Homo sapiens: one gene and its partner. The protein of the gene in region 2 purifies or fractionates together with the protein of the main gene of each other region. This does not show direct contact. Each region holds a gene or a part of one and is shown on either strand. Other genes may lie near its edges.

The links. The genes of interacting proteins can lie anywhere in the genome.
Region 1: the proteins of LRRC8E (region 2) and TRMT6 purify together in Homo sapiens (affinity purification with mass spectrometry; 2 studies listed by BioGRID and IntAct, with this or other methods). This does not show direct contact.

Annotation. Positions count from the first base shown.
Region 1 is NC_000020.11:5,940,526-5,947,550, reverse strand, and holds part of TRMT6 (tRNA (adenine(58)-N(1))-methyltransferase non-catalytic subunit TRM6), read left to right. Parts: intron 1-1,017; coding exon 1,018-1,145; intron 1,146-2,636; coding exon 2,637-2,746; intron 2,747-3,297; coding exon 3,298-3,389; intron 3,390-3,519; coding exon 3,520-3,603; intron 3,604-3,867; coding exon 3,868-3,992; intron 3,993-4,764; coding exon 4,765-5,123; intron 5,124-5,514; coding exon 5,515-5,600; intron 5,601-6,205; coding exon 6,206-6,308; intron 6,309-6,411; coding exon 6,412-6,498; intron 6,499-7,025. UniProt on the Homo sapiens protein: Substrate-binding subunit of tRNA (adenine-N(1)-)-methyltransferase, which catalyzes the formation of N(1)-methyladenine at position 58 (m1A58) in initiator methionyl-tRNA.
Region 2 is NC_000019.10:7,891,493-7,898,517, forward strand, and holds part of LRRC8E (volume-regulated anion channel subunit LRRC8E), read left to right. Parts: intron 1-2,080; exon of another isoform or gene 2,081-2,367; intron 2,368-3,027; exon of another isoform or gene 3,028-3,847; intron 3,848-4,106; 5' UTR 4,107-4,111; coding exon 4,112-4,249; intron 4,250-7,025. UniProt on the Homo sapiens protein: Non-essential component of the volume-regulated anion channel (VRAC, also named VSOAC channel), an anion channel required to maintain a constant cell volume in response to extracellular or intracellular osmotic changes.

The DNA of each region.
Region 1 (7,025 bases), on a different chromosome or scaffold from region 2:
TAAGCTTTAATGAAGATGTGACTCAAAAGTGTGGCCGATTTAGGGAACCAATAAAGGTGACACACCCAGAGACCAGCAATGGTGGTAAGCCTCTGACACGGGAGCGTGGGTGATGTGGCAGTATATTCTGTCGTAATCAGCTTCCTGGTGGCACAGAGAAAGGAAGAGAAGGAGTGGGATGGGGCACAATCAGAATTAACCACCACATGATTCCCAGAATTCAGTGTTCTGTGCACATGGGCCATGTCCTGAAGCTAGGTGGGCTTTCTACCGTCCTTAGGTCTTTGCTGGAGTAGACCGTGTGGTATAGTGGAAAGAATGAGGCTTGGGGTCAGACACAGATTTGAATTTGAATCCCAGCTCCAACAACACCTTGCAACTGTGAATCTTGGACAAGATACTTCTCCCTGGGCCTCGGATTGCTCTTCTGGAAAGAGCTATGTCCCAGGATTACCGTGAGAATTAAATCAAAAAGTGTGAATCACACCTCGCACACACTGCCTAGCCCCTGGTTGGCACTCAGCAGATGTTAGTTTTCTTTTGAGAAGAAAGCATTGTGTTCCTGTGGGATTTCTCTTTTAAATTGCAATAAGATAAAAAATCTATGTCATAGGAAACCTCAAGTTGCCTGGTCCTCAGTAGAGCATTGTCAGTGTTAGGCTCCATTTCCAAGTGTGTAGATTGTCAGTGTTTATTTGCAAGTATAATTTGCTTTTATTAGATAATTTTCAAATAAAATGGCCGATCAGACCAAGCCCAAGAAATTTGTTAAATCCTTGTTACTTCGATGAGTCTTTGCTTCCCCTTTCCAAAATTCAGTGTTCTTGTGGCTTATTCATTAATTTTACGTCTCTATCCCAACCAGGTTCTCTCTAGTTCCTTTGTTGCTTTATGTTCAGAGATAATGCTGCTGATCATCCATTGTGGAGACCACTTTTGAAATAAACTGTAGTGAACATGTCTTTTCTGTACTGGATAGAAAAGATATTCAGTTAATTGATTACTTTTTTTCCCTAGAAAAGTAACTTTCGAAAAACAGTGGTTCTACCTGGATAACGTCATTGGCCATAGTTATGGAACTGCATTTGAAGTGACCAGTGGAGGAAGTCTACAGCCCAAGAAGAAGAGGGAAGAGCCTACTGCAGGTGCACATTTTGGATGCGTGAAATAGATGCTCTCCAACTGACTAGTCAGAAACATCTCAGCCTCCACCTAATTCCCAAGTGCTAGGCCATGCTATCCCAAAAGAAATCTTAACTCATAATCTAAGAACTGCAGCTCAGTGGAGTGAAGCAAGTACTGCCTTTGGCCATGAGATAACCTGGATTCTGGCTCCAGCCCACCATTAAATGGTTCTCTGTTCTTGGGCCAGGCATTTAATCCTATGAGTCGTTGCTGCGTCATTGCAAGAACATAATGTAAAGTTCTTTCAGTGCCCAGAAGTTATGTAACAGCTGTGAGGTGGTTAGCATATGGTGTAGAGGTTAAGAGGTCTGGTTTTGGATCCAGCTAAGTTCAATTTCTACCTTCATCACTTGCCTTGTACCGTTGGGCAACTTATTTGATTTCTGTGAGTCTTATATCCTTATATATGTAAAATAGGGTCATAAACACATTTAATGCCTAGGTTGTATTGAGTGTTCTATGATATGACTCATAGGAAGTTCTGAATAGTGTCTTGCTTTTAGTAAGGGCCCATAATTTTAGCTATTACTATTATTATTTCTTAACAACCTCTTGTCCAAAAGCTGTTATTGTTAATTAAAATTATATTTATTAAAATGAACATTGAGAGTATCTTATTAATTAAAACACAAGTAATTATTTGAAGTTAAATACTGTTAAAGTTTTGAGTCAAACCTGTTATTTAGATACATTTAAATTAATATCCATATTTTTACTAAGCACCAAATATATGCCAGGTATAATTTGGCGCTGCAATTATAGCAGTTCATAAGATAGACTGTCGTATAAAATGTGCTTACCAGTTGGAACACCAAAAATAATCAAGTAGACAAGCAAACAGCATGATTTCTGATGGTGAAGTGACACATGCTATGAAGATAATAAAGCAGGGGCGTGTACTAATTTGGTAAAGCAAGAGAATGAGCTCAGCCTCAAGTGATAGAAAGGATCCAGCCACTCAGACATCTGTCGTAGAACCTTCCAGGCAGAGGAAGCAGCAGGTGCCAAAAGCCTGCTGTGGGACCTTGCTGGGTGTGTTCAAGGAACAGAAAGAAGGCCATTGTGGCTGAAGCTAAAGTGTCAAGAGATCAGGCCAGGAATGATAGGCAGGGGCCAGATCATTTATGACCTTGCAGGTCATCTTTGGAGTGTATTCTTATTGCTATGGGAAGCCACTGTATGGTTTTAAGCATGGGGTAGATGAGTCAAATTGCATTTAAACAAAGAGCACTCTGGCATCCAGGTGGATAGTAGGGGGGCAAGACTGGGAGCAGGAAGATGACTTAGAGGCTTGGAGTAGTTTTGGCAGGAAAGGATAGTGTGATGGGGGCAGTGCAGCTGGGAGGCCAGACTTGAGTGGCTGATGGACTGGATGTGGATATGAACTCAGAAAAAGAAAGTGTCAAATAATTTCAGACCATAAATGTCAATAGAGCAATTTCTTTCCTTAGAGACTAAAGAAGCGGGCACTGATAATCGAAATATAGTTGATGATGGGAAATCTCAGAAACTTACTCAAGATGACATAAAAGCTTTGAAGGACAAGGGCATTAAAGGAGAGGTAATATTCAAAGGATTTTTAGTTTTGTTTTTGTCTGTTTGGCATTTAGGAAACTGTTGGGTTTTTAAAGCAGACTGTACCTAAGGTAAAACAAAAAAATAACGTTATAGCTTTGATAGAAATAGGTTGAAATGTACATGTTACTCAACATTTCAAAGATTTTATGTCTTATATACAGGAATATAAGTGAATGACATTACTAATGTCAGTGGTAGAGAATGTAATAACAGTGCATATCAGGATTTAACTTTGTTCATTTTCAGTAATGTTTTCAGCCAGTGTCTTCAGAAATTAGTTTCCTTTACCTCTCTTCTCCTTTTGTTGGATATCTCTGTTCTTTTACGTTGGTTTAAGTGGAGTTATAAAGTACTTGTATTTTATTATAAATTCCAAATAGAGTATAGAAATATAAAGTTCATCTATTTGGACTTCTGTGGAAAAGGGATTGGAGAATCAGACCATTGGATCCATTCTTGGGTAAGAAGCCTTTGGAAATTACTTGTTTTGTGAAAGTAAAGTTTCAGAAAATCTACTTGCTCCTTTTCTTATAGGAAATAGTTCAGCAGTTAATTGAAAATAGTACAACATTCCGAGACAAGACAGAATTTGCCCAAGATAAATATATTAAAAAGAAGAAAAAAAAGTAAGTAGTTTTTATTTTAAAAGGCCCACAATATTAAACTTCTTATATGTTTATAAAATATACATTTTATTACAAATAAAATATTTTAAGTCATTTTTTTAAATCAGCGTTCTGTTTTTTCTTCCCCCAGATATGAAGCCATCATTACTGTTGTGAAGCCATCCACCCGTATTCTTTCAATTATGTATTATGCAAGAGAACCTGGAAAAATTAAGTACGCTTTGTTTCCTTTCAAAAGTATAATTGGGGGAAATATGTCTTTAAGAAAGTCATGATTTTAAGTAAAATGAAAAAGCTTGCTCACCTGCATAAAGTATCCTCCTACCTCATAAATTGTAAGTCCTTTTACTGTCACCTCCAAAGCAATCAATAATCTTATCAACACAATTTTAATAAAGCAAACAAAACTTGAAAAATGATGATTAAAATAATAGGCTTTACTTAGCTAAAAATGAACAAATTATTGTTTTTACTTTAGCCACATGAGATACGATACACTAGCCCAGATGTTGACGTTGGGAAATATCCGTGCTGGCAACAAAATGATTGTGATGGAAACGTGTGCAGGCTTGGTGCTGGGTGCAATGATGGAACGAATGGGAGGTAAGATTTAATATTTCCATTTTCAACAAAACCCCACCCTGATGTGAGTAAAGGTGGTCCAAAAATGTAAACTCATGGAAAGCCAAATTGAATTACTTCAGGGTTAACAAAGTGACTTGGGTGAACCTGCACGGCTCCTAGCATGGGGACCTTCTTACACAGTCTCCATCACCCAGCCCCCCACCCATGGGTACCCCCAAACCCATGGCAATTGTCCTTTCTAGCTTCACTGTCAGTGGGCATGATGCTGGAGCCTGTGGCTGGCTAGGGCTTTCGGGACAGTGATTTTAGTAAACTCCTGGGTAGCTGGTGCTCATTTCATTGGGCCTAAATTGAAGGGATTGAGTGGGAAGATTACTAAGCATGTATTCTCTCTGGAAGAATACAACACAGCCTGATTTGTCTGGTTTTTTTCTGACCCCATAGAAGGTAAGAACTTGTAACTGCTCCATTTGAGGATCGGAGTGAGGGGAAGCAGAGTCCGTCACCAATCATGTGACATCCAAATTTGCAGACACAGGGTTTTACAATAGTATCAAGTGGGGATAAGCTTCTTTGAGTCTTCCTGCTATCTGCTTTAGAATTATATTACCTCCATTGGTAATACTCATAGACTCCAAACAGACTCCCTGAGGAGCTGCACCATCCTTCAGCCTCTGAATAAAGTACTAATAGAAAGACCTTCAGTCTCATTACTGTGGAGGACTCACTGAGGGTTTACGTAGTCTAGAGTCACTCCACGGGCAGATGTTTGTTTCTTTTATCTGTTCAGGTTTTGGCTCCATTATTCAGCTATACCCTGGAGGAGGACCTGTTCGGGCAGCAACAGCATGTTTTGGATTTCCCAAATCTTTTCTCAGTGGTCTTTATGAATTCCCTCTCAACAAAGTGGACAGTCTTCTACATGGAACATTTTCTGCCAAGATGTTATCTTCAGAGCCAAAAGACAGTGCTTTGGTTGAAGAAAGTAATGGCACACTGGAGGAAAAACAGGCTTCTGAACAAGAGAATGAAGACAGCATGGCAGAGGCCCCAGAGAGCAACCACCCAGAAGACCAGGAAACAATGGAAACAATTTCTCAAGATCCAGAACATAAGGGGCCTAAAGAGAGAGGAAGCAAAAAAGATTATGTAAGGATGCCAAGAGTCCCCACCACCCCCATAATCTCAGTCCCTCAGTTAACTTCAGTTAAGTCATGAGATTTAGTTTGGCTTTGGTGTATTAGCTCCCAAGATGATAACTATCAAAACAGAGAACGAGTGTGTGTACATGTATACAAACGTGTGATTCGGTCTTCGGGATGGAGCTTTAGGATACAGAAGCGTTGCATAGATAGCTTAATCATGGTTTTTATAGTATATAGGCTTTCTTGTGTATTTGCAACTTCCTTATAAACAACCTGCTTCTATTGGTTTAGTCCAAGTTGATAAATATTGTTGAAATGTTTTGACAGGCCAGAGCATTTCCATAAATTTGACTGAAAGACCCCAGTACATTGATTTCTTATTTTTCTTTTTGAAGATTCAGGAAAAACAGAGGAGACAAGAAGAGCAGAGGAAAAGACATTTAGAGGCTGCCGCTCTGCTGAGTGAAAGAAACGCAGATGGGTGCGTTGATGGAAGAAGGCAGGAGACTCCTCAGTGCATGTGGGCTCTGCTTCAGACAGATTGGCATTCTCTTTCTCCTTGTCTGCTTTGACTCTAGTGGGACCCGAGATGAGGATTTTGTCTTGGGGGTTTTTTTAAAGAAAGGAGGCTGAGGCTGGCAGGGGTGGGGAATTGATGATGCTGGTTTCAGGGTTTCAGAAGAAATTGAATCTTCTCCATCACTGCATCAAGATGGGCCCTGTGGTCCCACTGGATGCAGGGGATGGGGCACTCAAATGCTGCGATACAGGCTATAACAGATATCCACAAAGCAGCTTATGCAGTGTTGGATTTGTTTCCAGGTGATTTTTTTTAAAAAATCAAGAATGTCATTAAATGCGACTTAGAGTTGCCAAGTACCACAAGAGCTTCTAACCTAGTTCGCGTTTCCTAGAAAGAAATAGCTCATGATTGTATTCTGTTTTGGATTTCTAGAATGTTATATTTAAATCTCTTCTCTTTGTGAGTCATGCAAATTAAATACATGATCATTTTAAATGCATTTTAAAACCTGTGCTCCACTTTGAGGGTGTAGAGAAATAATTTGTCTGGCATTTTCCTTACAGTTTAATTGTAGCTAGTCGTTTCCACCCCACTCCCCTGCTGCTGTCTTTGCTGGACTTTGTGGCCCCTTCAAGGCCGTTTGTGGTCTACTGTCAGTACAAAGAGGTAATACTGGAATGGAATGGGCAGGAATTCTTATGTCTGAATGTTGATTCTTAAACTGCATCCCAGGAAGTAGTTCTTAACAGAATTCTGTTGTTGTCTGCAGCCTCTGTTGGAATGCTACACAAAACTGCGGGAGAGGGGAGGGGTCATCAACCTCAGGCTGTCTGAAACCTGGCTCAGAAATTATCAGGTACGTGTTCTTACAGCCAGTCCCAAGAGCTGCCCTCCCGAGACTTGACTTTCCTTGCAGTAGTACTAGAAGTCATTAAATAGAGTTATCTCAGCCAGGCACAGTGGCTTATGCCTGTAATCCCAGCACTTTGGGAGGCCAAGGCAGGCAGATCGCTTGAGCCCAGGAGTTCAAGACCAGCTTGGGCAACATGGTGAAACCCTGTCTCTACAAAAAAAAATACATAAATTGGCTGGGCATGACCCTGTATCTACAAAAAATATAAAAATCAGTCGAGCATGGTGGCAGGTGCCTGTAGTCCCAGCTACTCAGGAGCTGAGGTGGAAAGATTGCTTGAACCCTGGAGGTCGAGGCTGCAGTGAGCCGAGATCCCACCACTGCACTCCAGCCTGGGTGACAGAGTAAGACCCTCTCTCAAAAACAAAACAAAATAAAAATAGAGATGTCTCTGTTTCTTTCTACAGGGATGGAGATTTCTCATGGCTGTTACTCAGAGAATATGCCCCTGACTTTTTGTGACCCTTTTT
Region 2 (7,025 bases):
GTGGCAAGGACAGGAAGTTGGTCCCTGCTCGGGTGTGTGTGTGTGTGTGTGTGTTTGTGTGTGTGTGTGTGTGTTGTGTGATTTCTTCTGCAGCCTCCAGAGTCAGGAGTTTTTGTTTTGTTTTGTTTTTTTGAGACGGAGTCTCGCTCTGTCGCCCAGGCTGGAGTGCAGTGGCGAGATCTTGGCTCACTGCAGCTTCTGTCTCCCGAGTTTAAGCAATTCTCCTGCCTCACTCTCCTGAGTAGCTGGGATTACAGGCATCCACCACCATGCCTGGCTAATTGTTTTTGTATTTTTAGTAGAGACGAGGTTTCACCATGTTGGCCAGGCTGGTCTGGAACTCCTGACCTCAAATTATCCGCCTACCTTGGCCTCCCAAAGTGCTGGGATTACAGGCGAGAGCCACCGCGCCCGGCCCCAGTCAGTAGTGTTTTGCTTGCTGTGTTTGAGATAGGGTCTTGCCCAGGCTGGTTCATGGCTCACTGCAGCCTCTAACTCCTGGGTTCAAGCAATCCTCCCACCTCAGTCTTCCAAGTAGCTGGGACTACAGGCATGCACCACCACACCTGGCAAGATTTTAGATTTTTTTTTTTTTTTTGAGACGGAGTCTCGCTCTGTCGCCCAGGCTGGAGTACAGTTGTGCAATCTTGGCTCACTGCAGGCTCTGCCTCCCAGGTTCACGCCATTCTCCTGCCTCAGCCTCCCAAGTAGCTGGGACTACAGGCGTCTGCCACTATGCCCGGCTAATTTTTTGTATTTTTAGTAGAGACGGGGTTTCGCCGCATTAGCCAGGATGGTCTCAATCTCCTGACCTCGTGATCCACCCACCTCGGCCTCCCAAAGTGCTGGGATTACAGGCGTGAGCCACCGCACCCGGCCCAAATTTTTAGATTTTTTTGTAGAAATGGGGTCTGACTATGTTGTCCTGGCTGCTCAAACTCCTGGGCTCAAGCAATCCTCCTGCCTCAGCCTCCCAAAGTGCTGGAATTACAGGCCTGAGCCACTGCACCCAGCCTGGGGTCAGCATTCTTAGGTAAAGCAACTGAGCAGTGTCCCTGCAGGATCCTTGGAGGACTCAATGGATGGCCGGAACCAAAACAGGACGTGAGGGTCCCTGGTGCTGGGTCCCTCCGAAGCTCAGTGTGTGTACTTGGACTTTATACCCTCGTGCACAAATATGCATGACCCAAAATGACCCCAAGCGTCCATTTTGGTGGGTGCAATGTACATATTCTTCCCCTGGGGACAGTTGAGCTATCCTGGTATGTTTCTACCAGATTACATACTGGTGACCCAGGCAGACTGGGATATTTGTAGTCGGGTTTCTTTTCTCTTCTCTTCTCTTTTTTAGAGACAGGGTCTTGCTCTGTCGCCCAGGCTGGAATGCAGTAGTGCAATCTTGGCTGACTGCAACCTCCGCCTCCCGGGTTCAAGGGGTTTTCGTGCCTCAGCCTCCCGAGTAACCGGGACTACAGGCACCCTCCACCATGACTGGCTGTTTTGTATTTTTATTTTTATTTTGTTTTAGTTTTGAGACAGAGTCTTGCACTATTGTCTGGGCTAGAGTGCAGTGGCGCAATCTCAGCTCACTGCAACCTCTGCCTCCCAGGTTCAAGCGATCCTCCTGCCTCAGCCTCCCTAGTAGCTGGGATTACAGGCACCTGCCACCACGCCCAGCTAATTTTTTGTATTTTTAGTAGAGACGGGGTTTCATCACGTTGGCCAGGCTGGTCCCTAACTCCTGACCTTGTGATTTGCCTGCCTCGGCCTCCCAAAGTGCTGGGATTACAGGCGTGAGCCACCGCACCTGGCTAATTTTTGTATTTTTAATAGAGACGGAGTTTCACCATGTTGGCCAGGCTGGTCTCGAACTCCTAACCTCAAGTGATCTGCCCACCTCGGCCTCCCAAAGTATACTTGGCTTTTTGCTTAGGGCAGGGAGTGTGAATGAGCATGAGGGCCAGGCCATGGTGCGAAGGACCCTGTGCTCTGGGCACCCCCTTGCATGGATCTGGGTCTGGGTGAGTCACTGCCTGAGTCAGGGAACCCATGACTTTTTTTTTTTTTTTTCCCGAGACAGAGTCTCGCTCCGTCTCCCAGGCTAGATTGCAGTGGCACGATCTCAGCTCACCACAACCTCCGCTTCCCGGGTTCAAGCGATTCTCCTGCCTAGCTGGGACTACAGGTTCATGCCACCATGCCCGGCTAATTTTTGTATTTTTAGAAGAGACGGGGTTTCACCATGCTGGCCAGGCTGGTTTCGAACTCCTGACCTTGTGATCCGCCTGCCTTGGCCTCCCAAAGTGCTGGGATTACAGACGTGAGCCACTGCGCCTGGCCCAACCTATGACATTTTACACTTGCATGGTGAGTCCCCGTGTGGGCAGGCTGTACCCACACCCTTGCCTGCCTATCTGATTCCCCAGACTGAAGTGGGGGCCTCTGAGGGGGTAAAAGGATGTGGTCTTTCGGGACTGCTTGGCCTTTAGCTTGGTGGGTGGAGCCTGTATCCTACCTTGTTTTAACCCAGGAGTCACCCCAAAATATGGGGGGGACACAAACTGAAAAGGGAGGCTCAGACATGTCAGAACCATTGGCTGAGTCGTGGGTCAGGGGACCAGGGTTTCCCTAGATTCTTCCTGGGGAGATGGATGGGGAGCCAGAGATAACTCCCTGATGGGCAGATGCCCTCCTTCTTGGCCCAACTCCTGTCCCGTTACAGATTATCTTTGTCTTTTGTTTTGTTTGTTTGAGATGGAGTCTCACTCTGTCACCCAGGCTGGAGTGCAGTGGCACGGTCTCACTTCACTGCCACCTCTGCCTCCCCGGATCAAGACCCTCCCACCTCAGCCTCCAGAGTAGCTAGGATTACAGGTGTGTGTCACCACACCTGGTTAATTTTTTGTGTATTTTTAGTAGACTCTGGGTTTCACCATGTTGGCCTCACTGGTCTCGAACTCCTAACCTCAAGTGATCCACCTGCCTCAGCTTCCCATAGTGCTGGGATTACAGGCATGAGCCACCGCGCCCAGCCCCAGTTACAGATTATCTATCTGGACAAGGACAGGAGGCTCCCAGGAGTGGGGGAACTTGGATGTTGGCAGAAGTGGGCTGGTCTAAGGTTCCCCACCTTCCTTGTTCCACCTCCAGCCTCTGGGGAAGTAGGTACCTGCCTGGGAGAGTGACATCTCAGCTCATGCCCCACGCCCCAGTGTGATTTGTGGCTGGCCTGTCTGTATCTGTAATAGTGATAGCTTGGTCTAAAAGGAGACCCTGGGAACAGACAGAGTGGGCCGGCCAGGAGCCTGACAGCACAGCCCTAGCCTGGTCGCAGATGTCACCTGACAACTTTCCATTTGCAAATCCTCCTTCCTCCTCGGACATCCGGACACCCCATTGCCCCCTCTCAGAGCCCAGGTCTCTGGTTTCTGCCTGTGATTCTGGGCTGTAGCCCCTTTAGAAACTCAGGTGTCCTGGTCACCTCCTACCCCCAGGGCTGACTAGCCTTCAGCTTGGCAGTCCCTGCCCCTGGGGCCCTAGTAACCAGAGCCAGGCTCCAGCCGGCTTTTCCGGTTAGAGGTTGGAGGTGGTGCCCAGAGTGCCCCTGGAGGGGGTGGAGGGGCCTACGCCCCGGAAGTCCTGAGCCTTGGAACGCTTTCAGGCCTGGTGGCGGTGGGAGCCGGGGCTGGCCCAGACGCTGAGTGTCTGCAGTCAGGGAGCATCGAGGCAGATGTTTTCAGGCCTTGGTGTCAGGGGTGGGAGAGGGATGCCTCGTTTTGGGGAGGGGGCCACCCGAGGAGGCTGGAGGGCGGCGGCCCTGTGGACTATCCCTCATGTGCTCTTCGAGGTCAGACAAGTCAGATCAGGTGCAGGGGTGCCCAGAGGGGAACAGTGGCCGCTTGGTTCTGGGCAGGTGGTGACGTCTGCATGGAGGGTGACTAAGGCCAGGCTAAGAGGGAAGTGGGGGCACACACTTTGGTGGTTTGGACAAGTTTGGGCAGGGAGGGTCACAGGCCTGCCTGTGTCCGGCTCCTCGGAGGACCCCCTGCAGAGCCTCCCATCCTGAGGGTCTCTCTCTACACCCCCCGTCTCGTCCCGTCCCACAGGCAGCATGATCCCAGTGGCCGAGTTCAAGCAGTTCACGGAACAGCAGCCTGCGTTCAAGGTGCTCAAACCCTGGTGGGACGTGCTGGCCGAGTACCTCACCGTGGCCATGCTCATGATTGGGGTCTTTGGCTGCACCCTCCAGGTGAGGCCCTCCCCTGGCAAGGGGGTGTGACCAGAGGGGCGGGGCAGGTGTCTGGGGAAGTCGGGAAGCCTTCTCATCACCCAAGAAAGAGAGGAAACTGAAGACAGAGCCCCACTCAAAGGCCAATCCAGACCCCTTATCTTCCTTACCTCCATAGCCAGGAGCACCGGAGTCCCCACATTGCTATGCCATTCCATATCTTTTTTTCTTTTTTGAGACGGAGTCTCACTCTGTCACCCAGGCTAGAGTACAGTGGCATGATCTCAGCTCCCTGCAACATCTGCCTCCCGGGTACAAGCGGTTCTCCTGCCTCAGCCTCCTGAGTAGCTGGGATTACAGGCGCCCACCACCACGCCTGGCTAATTTTGGTAGTTTTTTAGTAGAGATGGGGTTTCACCATGTTAGCCAGGCTGGTCTCGAACTCCTGACCTCAAGTGACCTGCCTGCCTGGGCCTCCCAAAGTGTTGGGATTACAGGCCTGAGGCACTGCACCTGACCCTTTCTTTTTTTTTCTTTTTTTTTTTTTTCTTTTTGGCTAAAAAGAGACAGGGGCCGGGCATGGTGGCTCACACCTGTAATCCCAGCACTTTGGGAGGCCAAGGTGGGAGTATCACTTAAGGCCAGAAGTTTGAGACCAGCCTGGCCAACACGGTGAAAACCCGTCCTTACTAAAGACACAAATATTAGCCAGGCATGGTGGTGGACACCTGTAATCCCAGCTACTTGGAAGGCTGAGGCAGGAAAATTGCTTGAACCTGGGAGGTGGAGGTTGCAGTGAGCCGAGATCATGCCACTGCACTCCAGCCTGGGTGACAGAACGAGACTCCATCTTAAAAAAAATAAAATAAAATAATTGAAAATTAAAATAAAGAAACACGGTCTCATTCTGTCATCCAGGTTGGAGTGCAGTGGCATGATCACAGCTCACTGCAGCCTTGAACTCCTGGACTCAAGTGATCTTCCCGCCTCAGCCTCCAGAGTAGCTGGGATTACAGGCACACACCACCACGTCCAGCTAATTTTTAAATTTCTTGTTGACACAGGGGTCTTGCTATGTTGCCCAGGCTTGTCTCGGACTCCGGGCCTCAAGCCATCCTCCCACCTCGGCCTCCCAAAGTGCTGGGATTACAGGTGTGAGCCACTGTGTCCAGCCCCATATTTTCACAATGCTCAGTTTTATCCCTAGAATCTGGAAAGGACTGCAGTTGCTATATGAGTTTGTTACTTCTGTTGTAACAAAGTAGCAGGGATTGAGTGGCTTAAATAACCAGAAATGTTTCCTCTTCTGGGTCTGGTTCTGGAGGCCAGAAGTCTGAGATCAAGGCGTCAGTTGTCAGTGAGGGAGAATCTTCCAAGCTTCCCTCCTAGATTTTTGCAGCTCCAAGAGTTCCTTGGCTTGTAGATGACATTCTCCCAGTATTTTTCTTTTTCTTTTTCTTTTTTTTTTAGACAGAGTCTCCCTCTGTCGCCCAGGCTGGCATGCAGTGGTGCGATCTCGGCTCACTGCAACCTCCGCCTCCCGGGTTCCAACAATTCTCCTGGCTTAGCCTCCCAAGTAGCTGGGATTACAGGCGTGTGCCACCACGCCCGGCTAATATTTTTTTGTATTTTTAGTAGAGACGTGGTTTCAGTATGTTGGCCAGGCTGGTCTTGAACTCCTGACCTCGTGATCAGGATCAGCCTGCCTCTGTCTCCCAAAGTGCTGGGATTACAGGCATGAGCCACTGCGCCTGGTCGAGACAGTTTTTTTTTTTTTTTTTTAAGCAAGCTCTGTCACCTAGGCTGGAGTGCAGTGGCGCAATAATAGCTCACTGTAACCTTGTACTCCTGGCCTCAAGCAATCCTCCTCTACCACCCCCGCTTGGCCCCCCCTCCCACTGCCTCCCAAATCACTGGGATTACAAGCCTGAGCCACCGCACCCAGCCTCTCCCTGTATCCTCACGTCATCTTCTGTCTTTGTGTCTGTCTCTGTGTCTATGTTTCCCCTTTCTCTAAGGCGCAGTCATACTGGGCCCACCCTACTGGCTTTGTCTTGACTACCTCTGCAAAGACCCTATTACCAAACAGGAGCCGCCTGACCCAGCTCAAATAATACCACATTCTAAGGATTCGGAGTTGGGACTTCAACATCTTTTGTGGGGACACGATTCAACCCAGCTCCTTTTCTCAGACAAAGACCAGTGCTTTGTCAGTTGTGGTGGCTCATTCCTGTAATCCCAGCACTTTGGGAAGCTGAGGCAGGGGATCACTTGAGGCCAGGAGTTCGAGAGCAGCCTGGCCAACATGGTGAAACCCCATCTCTACTAAAAATACAAAAATTAGCTAGGCGTGGTAGTGCGTGCTTGTAGCCCCGGCTACTCAGCAGGCTGAGGCAGGAGAATTGCTTGAACCAGGAGGGGAAGGTTGCAATGAGCCAAGATTGCACCACTGCACACAGCCTGACAGAGCGAGACTCTTGTCTCAAAAAAAAAAACCAAAAAAAAAAAAAACAGTGCTTAGAGGTTTAGCAAAACTCTTCCAAAATCACAGCTGGCTGGCAACAGTCAGAGATGGGGGGTGCGGGGGGTCTCCCACCTTCAGCCTGCTTTTTCCCCATCCCCCTCATTTTCTCTCTTTTTTAAATTAATTTATTTTTGAGACAGAGGCTCACTCTGTCACCCAGGCTGGAGTACAATGGCGCGATCTCGGCTCACTGCAACCTCCATCTTCCGGGTTCAAGCGATTCTCCTGCCTCAGCCTCCCGAGTAGCTGGGATTACAGGTGCCCACCACCATG